Homo sapiens: one gene and its partners. The protein of the gene in region 2 purifies or fractionates together with the protein of the main gene of each other region. This does not show direct contact. Each region holds a gene or a part of one and is shown on either strand. Other genes may lie near its edges.

What was found.
Region 1: the proteins of PDE6D (region 2) and HP purify together in Homo sapiens (affinity purification with mass spectrometry; one large-scale study listed by BioGRID and IntAct). This does not show direct contact.
Region 3: the proteins of PDE6D (region 2) and ORM1 purify together in Homo sapiens (affinity purification with mass spectrometry; one large-scale study listed by BioGRID and IntAct). This does not show direct contact.

Annotation. Positions count from the first base shown.
Region 1 is NC_000016.10:72,057,353-72,061,106, reverse strand, and holds the end of HP (haptoglobin isoform 1 preproprotein), read right to left. Parts: intron 3,716-3,754; coding exon 3,641-3,715; intron 2,854-3,640; coding exon 2,752-2,853; intron 1,994-2,751; coding exon 1,919-1,993; intron 996-1,918; coding exon 217-995; 3' UTR 52-216; downstream 1-51. UniProt on the Homo sapiens protein: As a result of hemolysis, hemoglobin is found to accumulate in the kidney and is secreted in the urine. Haptoglobin captures, and combines with free plasma hemoglobin to allow hepatic recycling of heme iron and to prevent kidney damage.
Region 2 is NC_000002.12:231,731,910-231,734,238, forward strand, and holds the end of PDE6D (retinal rod rhodopsin-sensitive cGMP 3',5'-cyclic phosphodiesterase subunit delta), read right to left. Parts: intron 1,125-2,329; coding exon 1,043-1,124; 3' UTR 524-1,042; downstream 1-523. UniProt on the Homo sapiens protein: Promotes the release of prenylated target proteins from cellular membranes. Modulates the activity of prenylated or palmitoylated Ras family members by regulating their subcellular location.
Region 3 is NC_000009.12:114,321,506-114,325,259, reverse strand, and holds the start of ORM1 (alpha-1-acid glycoprotein 1 precursor), read right to left. Parts: upstream 2,163-3,754; 5' UTR 2,127-2,162; coding exon 2,013-2,126; intron 1,598-2,012; coding exon 1,455-1,597; intron 1,243-1,454; coding exon 1,172-1,242; intron 471-1,171; coding exon 363-470; intron 212-362; coding exon 108-211; intron 1-107. UniProt on the Homo sapiens protein: Functions as a transport protein in the blood stream. Binds various ligands in the interior of its beta-barrel domain. Also binds synthetic drugs and influences their distribution and availability in the body.

The DNA of each region.
Region 1 (3,754 bases), on a different chromosome or scaffold from region 2:
GACCATAAAGGAGCAAATAAAAAAGACTCAAGACTGAACACAACACAGAAATGGGTCAAAAGAAAGCTCTTTATTGATTGACTCAGCAATGCAGGGCTGGCACCCATCAGCTTCAAACCACATCTTATCGCATCCACTCCTGTCCACTCCCGTCCACTTTGCCCTCTTCCAGGCTGAAATCTTGCTTTCAGGCAAGGGCTTCCGGCCAGCCTTGCATTAGTTCTCAGCTATGGTCTTCTGAACCCAGTCCTGGATGGAAGTCACCTTCACATACACACCATACTCAGCCACAGCACAGCTCTTATCAAAGCTTAAGATCCCAGTCGCATACCAGGTGTCCTCCTCCAGGTCGTGAACGGCAAAGGCACTGCCCGCATCGCCATAGCAGGTGTCTTCTTGGTACTTAGACATGCCAGCACAGAAGGTGTGTTCATTCAGTATGGGCTGCACCCCTACAGGGCTCTTCGGTGTCTTCTTTTCGGGGACTGTGCTGCCTTCATAATGCCTTATGCATTGGTCTTGGTCAGCCACAGGCAGCATGACATACTTCAGATGGTCAGTAAATTTAAAATTGGCATTTCGCCCCCAGCCAGAAACATAACCCACACGCCCTACTTCTGCATAATCCTTTGAAGGTAGGCAGATGGGCATCACTCTCTCATTAACAGACACCTTCTGTTTGAGTTTGATGAGCCCAATATCTACCTGGGAGTAGTTAGGGTGTAGAACAACCTTCTCAATCTCTACAAGCTGCTTTTTCCCCACATAGAGTGTTAAAGTAGGGGCAATGTCTTTCGCTGTTGCATTTTCTGAATGGTTCAGGAAGAGATTTTTAGCCGTGGTCAGCAGCCATTGTTCATTGATCAGCGTGGCACCTGTGGTGAGATTATGGTGGGAAACCATCTTAGCCTGCCAGGGAAAGCTGCCTTTGGCATCCAGGTGTCCACCCAGGATCCGCTGCACTGGGTTTGCCGGATTCTTGGGCTTCCCACATACTGTCAAGGAGAGCAAGACACTCGTGAGTGGAAATGTGCAAGAGCCTTTCCATCTGAGAAAGGGGTGAAAGCATGGGCGGCTGTCACTGCTGCGTAAAGTAGAAAGATTTAAATGCTTTGCCCTTACCACCTGCTGATCTCATTTCCAATAGTTGCAGTTTTAAAATAATTCTGTTTTTTAAATTGTTTACATTACAAAAAGCTCTATTTCCCACTTTTCTAACAAAGGAAGTGGGAAATACTGAGATTTTTGAGCCCTGGCTGGTGAACTGTATTATATTTAAACAATTATCCCAATAAAGGAATTTCCACAATTCCCTGAAATTCATTGAAAGGGCTAGGGGCTACAATAATTCATTCTCTCTAAAGAAAGATGAATCTAGAGCAGCACTGGCTGGAGCTCAGATTTTGTAGATGGTGCAGTTAATACGAGGCAGGTTGGCATTTCCACACCAGTAAGAGCAGAAGAGGCTGGGCCTTTGCCTCTTGTTCTGAGAATGAAAGGAGAGAGCAACAGCTCCTCCTAATAACGAGAAGCAGGAGTTCCAGCCCATGTCCAGCCTCCTGCTAGGCTTCCATGGATTAAGATTTTATGTCATTCCTTGACTTGTTCTCCCTGGAGCTTGCTTCTCCTTAGACCCAGGGCTCTCTAGCAGGCTCTCTGTATGCACAGGCTCTCCTAATCTGTGGGCGATGTAGACAATGGATTCAGCCAGTGCCCTTCAGGCCCTAATGAACAAGACCCTTGGTGACCCTTAGGGAGTCATCACCTAACTGCTTAAGTCTCTCCCTGGCCAGCTGCGGTTCTCCCACATCCCTCCTCCTGGCTCTTGTGTGCTCAGAGGAAGCCGCACTGGAAGGCTGTGCCTCTAGGACGTTCCCCGCTGGACGCCTGCCTGCTCTCTTAAGTGCTCAGCACCCACCTGCTTCACATTCAGGAAGTTTATCTCCAACAGCCTTATTTATCCACTGCTTCTCATTGTTTAAGGTGTACACTCCTGAAACAAAAGGCAAGAAGTGAGCCAAAGGAGAAGTCAAGTCTAGACCCCGTGCAGAGTGAGAAGGCATTTAAAGAGAAGAACTAAAAGGAAGAGGAAAAGGGGACAAAAAGGAAGGGGAAAAGGAGAGAGTATATGAGAAGGAGGAAGGGAAAGAGTGCTGTGCTGGAAGCCAAGTGCCTGGATGCCAGTTAAGCCCAGCAGAACACACTGTGGTCATGGCGGTCACAGCCAAGCAGTACAGGGAGGGCTCAGGGTTCAAATCCTGACTCTGCCTCTTACAGGCTGCCTGAATTTGGGCAAGATACTCAACCTGTCTGTGCCTCAGTTTCCTTATCAGCAAAGTGAAAACAATAAACTCTGTTCAGAGGGATACTGTGAGGACTAAGTGAGCAAATAAGTATAAAGCCCTTAGAGCAGTGCCAGGACAGCAAGACTCACTAGGTGAGGGTGACATCATCATCAGCATTCCTTCTTTTCCCACATCTGCTGGAGATGTAAATGTGACTCTGAGATTTACATGAGGTAGGCTGCATGGCATCGCCTCCCCTTAACAAAACAGAAAACTTGAGGCTGACAAAAGTTAGTCTGCCCAAAGGGCCATGGCTACTGGCGACAAAACGCTTATTAGAATCTAAATCTCCTGGCTCCAAGGAGAGCAACGAACTTTCTGGCGAATCACCTCAGCACCACCCATCATGGAAATGTCAGAGAAGGGGGTTGTATGTAGGGCATGGAGACAGTTGTCCACATCTTACCATCTCCTTCTGTGCGCAGTTTGTAGTAGTTCTTACACTGGTAGCGAACCGAGTGCTCCACATAGCCATGTGCAATCTCGGGGGGCTTCGGGCAGCCGTCATCTGCAAAGAGAGAGAAGCCAGAGAGTTTGCTATTTGGAAATTGTTCCCAGTGAACCGTGAAAAGTCAGATGAGCGGGAGCTGCTCTGCACATCAATCTCCTTCCACCCCGAATAGAAGCTCGCGAACTGTATTATTTTTAAACAATTATCCCAATAAAGGAATTTCCACAATTCCCTGAAATTCATTGAAAGGGCTAGGGGCTACAATAATTCATTCTCTCTAAAGAAAGATGAATCTAGAGCAGCACTGGCTGGAGCTCAGATTTTGTAGATGGTGCAGTTAATACGAGGCAGGTTGGCATTTCCACACCAGTAAGAGCAGAAGAGGCTGGGTCTTTGCCTCTGGTTCTGAGAATGAAAGGAGAGAGCAACAGCTCCTCCTAATAACGAGAAGCAGGAGTTCCAGCCCATGTCCAGCCTCCTGCTAGGCTTCCATGGATTAAGATTTTATGTCATTCCTTGACTTGTTCTCCCTGGAGCTTGCTTCTCCTTAGACCCAGGGCTTTCTAGCAGGCTCTCTGTATGCACAGGCTCTCCTGATCTGTGGGCAGTGCCGACAGTGGATTCAGCCAGTGCCCTTCAGGCCCCAATGAACAAGACCCTTGGTGACCCTTAGGGAGTCATCACCTAACTGCTTAAGTCTCTCCCTGGCCAGCTGCGGTTCTCCCACATCCCTCCTCCTGGCTCTTGTGTGCTCAGAGGAAGCCGCACTGGAAGGCTGTGCCTCTAGGACGTTCCCCGCTGGACGCCTGCCTGCTCTCTTAAGTGCTCAGTGCTCAGCACCCACCTGCTTCACATTCAGGAAGTTTATCTCCAACAGCCTTATTTATCCACTGCTTCTTATCATTTAAGGTGTATACTCCTGAAACAAAAGGCAAGAAATGAGCCAAAGGAAAAGTCA
Region 2 (2,329 bases):
ATGTCGGACCTGAAAGCACTGCCAGTTGTAATCCCTTCTCTCCCACGCTGGCTTCCAATGACGACAGTCTTAAAGGCCTCCCAGCCTCCTCCCAGCCCAGACGCCTTCCCATCATTCTCCAGTTAGGTTCATGCAGATCTTTTCATTTTGTAGCTTCTAGTCTCATTTAGGAATATGAGAGTCCCTACTCTACTAACTTAGAATTGCCCTTTCTTGAAACTTCTTGAACAAATGAATACTGTAAACAAATAGAAAAAATTAACAATAATAAACAAACAAAGGGTGCATGTATGTTGTGGAAAAGAACCATTAAAGATTGTGTCTAAAAGACAAATGTTAAGGTCATGGGTTTGGTTCAAGTATGTTGCACAATTTTGGAAAGCAGTAACTGTGGCACTAGGGAACAAGATCTATCAGTTCCATTCCTGGAGTGAAATACAGTTGTGATCTTATATTTGGTTTCTTTCCATTATGCAGCCAGGTTCACTTTCCAGAAAAAGGAGAGATAAAAGCAGTGCCATGCTAAAGACTGTAGGAATATTTTAATTCATATTTTTAATTACATTATGTAATAATATCACAGTCTATTTTACAAGTTAAATGTATGAGAATGTATGAAATAGAAATGGTAGGAAAAAACTAAACATGGGTCAGGAACACGGAATTTTTCCAAAACCAGGGGCCAAAGGTAGATGTGTAGCCTGTAGGGCCCAAGGAGGAGACAAGGAGGGTGACAGGTACAGTTACCGGTTTGTGGTATGTGTTTGTTCCCTGTGTGTATGCTGGGAAGGACTTGAGACCTGTCCCCTGCCCTGGTCTGGGGTTGGGAGTTTAGTCTGGTCAGCTGGAAGATGGTGGCTTGGGAAAAAGAGCCATCTGGTTACCTACACAGAGCTGGTCCCCTGGTGGCTGCAGGTAGGTTCTGCTGTTGAGGGAATTAGGGGTGTATGTGTCAAAAATCAAACGTGTGGAGGAAAAAAGTAAACAGTTTCCTCCTCCCTCCAAAAAACCCAAATTCTTGAAATGTACACACATTCTTCTTTCAAACATAGAAAAGTCTCACTCTGGATGTGCTTACAAGAAGATCGTCGTCAAAAAACTTTGTTTCTATGATAACGTTCCCACTGTAAGTAAGAAGAGAAACAGAGGGCAAAAGAGAGTGAGCATGTTAGGCACAAGATTTCATTTCCACAAAGTGGTTTCCATCTGGATTCCTGGGCCAATGGACATGCACCCACCCAGAGTCTTAGCTTGGGGACATTAAAATCCTTGTCTATATGGGGCTACAAGTCTAACATGACATTTAACTTATGTGGTTACATTCATCCCTGTCAAGCTCACAAATCAGAAGTGAGAGCATGTCTCCACTCCTTGGTACACTCTAAAGCCCTTAGTAGAGTGCTCTGCACACAGGGTGCTTATAGATCCGACTGACTTTCTGATACTGCATTCATGGACACCTCTGGCTGGCTTACATATAGAAGCCTGCAGACCTCAGGGGCAGTATCCTTCCCTACAGTACTCACAATAGTCGAAAGGTGGGCTTTGGCCTGGCCCACATCTATTTTCCTGCCTTTGGGTAACAGCACCTTGCTCTTCATTTGGGAACCACCCTTCCTCCAGTCCATGTGCCAAGTGAGTGGCCCCTCACTCACCTGGCAAAAGGGTGAACAGAGGATGTAACTTAGGCCAATCAGACTCTTTCTCTTGAGCAAGATCCTTCCTGTAGCTTCTCCTTGAGGAAGCCATCCAGGGATTCCTGCCCATCTGCATCTTCCAAGCCGCCCAGCTCTCCCCCTTAGTCTTTCAGCTCTTGTATTAGCCAGAGCCTGTTTCTATGACTTACAACTACAGAACACTAAATGATGCACCTGTATTGTGAGGTGTGAGGGAAGAATTTCATTTTTCTTGGTGGGTATCTCGGTGCTCCCATTTGTAAAATGGGAGAGACCATGGCCTTACCAAATCACACTTGAGCTGAGTTTAGGGCAACTGTTTTTGGGGGTTCTAAAAAGTTAAGTAGCCGGGCACGGTGGCTCATGCCTGTAATCCCAGCACTTTGGGAGTCCGAGGTGGGCGGATCACAAGGTCAGGAGATTGAGACCATCCTGGCTAAACAGGGTGAAACCCTGTCTCTACTAAAAATACAAAAAAATTAGCCAGGCGTGGTGGCGGGCGCCTATAGTCCCAGCTACTCGGGAGGCTGAGGCAGGAGAATGGTGGGAACCCGGGAGGCGGAGCTTGCAGTGAGCCGAGATCACGCCACTGCACTCCAGCCTCCGCGACAGAGCGAGACTCTGTCTCAAAAAAAATAAAAAAAAATAAAAAA
Region 3 (3,754 bases), on a different chromosome or scaffold from region 2:
CTGCCTAGCTGTGCAGCCTTGCCTGGCAGCTCTCCTGCTCTGGGCCTCTGGGGCTGCCCAAGTTGGGCCATGGACAAGGTGGGCACTGTCCAATCCCTTGCGTTTACCTTTTTCCAATCGGTGTACACGACATCTGACTTGGGAATGCGCAAGCAGTCGAGAGCTTCGTAGAACTCTCCCAGTTGCTCCTTGGTCGTCTCTGGCTTGTCAGCTGCAGGGGGAGCAAGGAGACTGACTGGGGACATGGTGGGGCCCGGCGGGAGGCCAGGGAGGGCTGGGGTTCTAGGGGCCAGCCCAGGGGTGGGTGAATGGGGGGTGAGGCCTGAGAGGGGCATGAGTTTGGGGCTGCTAAGCATGCCTACCATAGACAGACAGCCCCCAGTTCTTCTCATCGTTCACGTCAAAAGCAAGCATGTAGGTCTTGGTGTCCCTGAGGATCAGCAAGTGAGCGAAATGCTCTTGGCCTCCCACTGGAAGAGAAAAGGAGCCTCTGGGTGAGAACATGGGATGGCACAATGGTGTCTGTCTTACAGGTGAGGAGGCCTAGGTGTGTCAGTGGCCACACAGCCCATCAGTGAAGGCCCAGGGCTCCTTTGGGCCACCGTGTGCCCAGCCCCTGCTGCATGCCCAGCTCCACGCCAAGCACTTTCTGTACATGAGATCTCAGGAGCCTCACACAGACCGTGGCTGTCAGGGCCTTTCTCCGTTTTACAGATGAGGAAAATGAGGCCCAGAGAGGAGGCTCGGGATGCTAAATGGTGTCAGTTCAGCTCCATCAGCTCCCTGCCATGTGCCACCTCTGCGGTGATGGGGGACATAGTTGAAGGTACCACCTCTCCAACATACAGGCTTCTACCATTGGTTTGCAAAGGATCTTAAAGAGGGCATGAGAGAGAGGCAGATCTGAAGCCAGCCTGGAGTTCCAATTCTAGTTCTAATTATAAGCTGTGTGACCTTGGGGAAACTATTTGAGGTCTCTGTTCTTCTTTTTCCTCCTCTAATTCTCTCAGTGTCCTCTTAGAGTTGTTTCTGAGCACATCGTTAGAGCTCAAAAATGTTAGTGGTTATTTCTCTGTGCCCAAAGCCTCCAGGGCTCTACATCCAGCCCCCACCTTATGCTGGCCTGCCCTGTTCCCACAGTGAACCCTCCTGCCTGAGGGCTGGCCCTCACCGTATCTGGAGATGGTCCCATTTTCCCGCTGGACATTCAGGTAGGTGGTGTTATAGATGCACTGGTCCTGTCTAAAGCCAAACAGAAGGCGGAAGGAAAACAGGAAGATTATTGAGAAGTGGCCAATCGCCCATCACAGTCCTGGGGCAAGAGTCTGGTGGAGATTAAAGCCAGCCCTCCCGGTTCCACCCATGGGAAGGCCAAGGCCAGGAAGAAGGAGGGACTTGCTCAGGTCTTCTGGCCAGAAGCTGAGATGGGGGTGCATTGGAATGGGGGCTCTCACCGGGTCTGGTACTCTCTGAGAAAGATCGTGTCCTCTGTCTTGTTGGGGGTGAAGTAAAAGAAGGTTGCTTGGATCTCCTGAACCGACTTATTGTACTCCTCGTTTCGAAAGGCCGATGCGATATAAAACCACTTGCCAGTGATCTGGGGAGAAGGTGGGAGCTGGTGATGGGGGCTTGATGCTGAATCTTTGACTGTCAGCTGGGAGGAGACTCAGGCAGATCTCTCCCTGATTTTGCAGATGGGGAGATGAGGCCCCTGGTGGGCAGTGCGCATGCAGGAGCTCACCCTGAGGATCAGTCATTGCCCCCCAGGCAGCCCCTCCAGGCCCAGCACAGAACCGTCCTCCGTGAAGGACTCTGCAGTGAGGCTTCTGTGTTTGGAGGCAGGGGGTGCCTCCAGAGTCCCCTGGGCTGGTGAGAATTTCACCCTGGGGACCCAGAAGAGAAAAAGGCAGAGCCGGGAGTGGGGGTCCGACCACAGCCAGCAGGGAAAGGGAAGCCCAGAGAAGGGAGGCAGCTGCCCATGTGCTCAGGACAGGGCTAGCCCAGGCACTCACCCGGTCCAGGGTGGCGTTGGTGATGGGCACCGGTACTAGGTTGGCACACAATGGGATCTGGGCTTCCAGCAGAGGTAGGAGGCTCAGGACTGTAAGAACCCAGGACAGCGCCATACTGAGACCAGGAGGCACGTGGAGCCAGGCAGTGCTGGTGGCTGCAGGGTGCAGTCACCTTTATAATAAACTATGGGCGGTCACTTGGAGCCCAGCAAAAGTTTACTCTGTGTCTGTGACACAATCCTGCCAGCACTTGGGAAATGCCTCGCACAAAACCTCCCCCAAAGGCCAGCTCGGAGCACCGCCTCCAAACCCAGGTCTAATTTGAGTTCCTCACATGGAGAGGTTACAAAAGCCCTAGAGTATGGCTGCCCAAGGCCAAGGTGGGTGCGGGGCTGCAGCAACATTAGTAAACGTGTGAGTCCACAGATTTCCTAGAGAGGCCTCCCGCAGAGGAATCTCATGTCTTCATTCAATTCCTATCCCTCTGAGTGCCAAGACTTACTTCAGTGGGACCCAGCCACAAACCTAATGATGAAGCCACCTTTGAGGGTCCCCAGGCTGGCATGGGATGTATGTTGTGGCGGGGAGAGTTGGGGTGAAGGATGCCGGGGAAGACAAACATAGATTCAGTTCCACTGAGTGTGGCAACAGCTGTGTCAGAGCCAAAGTTCATTGGGGCCCCAACCCAGCCCTGGACGCAGGCACATTTCCAAAAAGGGACATCCAAGTTGAATGTCTATTTCCAGTAAATATACTACTCGAAGCATCTCCCAACATCTCAAACAGGAAACTGTCTCCCTGTTTTCCCCCATTCCCTGCCATCTGAGCAGGCAGCTTGCTTCTCTTTCACCAATACGCCCCCAATCCTGGAGCAGTGCCCAGCACTTCAAGGGCACTCGGTATATTCTGTGGAATGAGTGATTCCGTGGCCCATTTGTGTTCCTACCTCACGGGTCAAGTCTTTATTTGTATGAATAAATACTTTCAGAAAGTATTCATTTTTTTTTTTTTTTGATACGGAGTTTCACTCCCGTCCCCCAGGCTGGAGTGCAATGGCTCAATCTCGGCTCACTGCAACCTGTGCCTCCTGGGTTCAAGCGATTCTCCTGCCTCAGCCTCCTGAGTCGCTGGGATTACTGGTGCCCTCCACAACGCCCAGCTAATTTTTTTTGTTGTTGTTATTTTCAGTAGAGATGGGGTTTCTCCATGTTGGCCAGGCTGGTCTGGAACTCCCGACCTCAGGTGACTCACCCGTCTCGGCCTCCCAAAGTGCTGGGATTACTCAGAAAGTATTCTTACGGTATGATTATAATTTTGCATTCTTATTCATTTCATTCTGAATAACTTTCATATTTCAGTGTAGTTTGTAGTTAAAAGCTTAATGGACCCAAGATGGGAGAGTCACCTGAGTCCTGGAGTTCAAGACTAGCCTGGGCAACATAGTGAGACCCTATCTTTACACAAAAATATTTAAAAATTAGCCAGGTCGGCCAGGCGCGGTGGCTCACGCCTGTAATCCCAGCACTTTGGGAGGCTGAGGCGGGCGGATCATGAGGTCAAGAGATGGAGACCATCCTGGCTAACATGGTGAAACCCCATCTCTACTAAAAATACAAAAACAAAATTAGCTGGGCGTGGTGGCAGGCGCCTGTAGTCCCAGCTACTTGGGAGGCTGAGATGGGAGAATGGCGTGAACCTGGGAGGCAGAGCTTGCAGTGAGCTGAGATGGCGCCACTGCACTC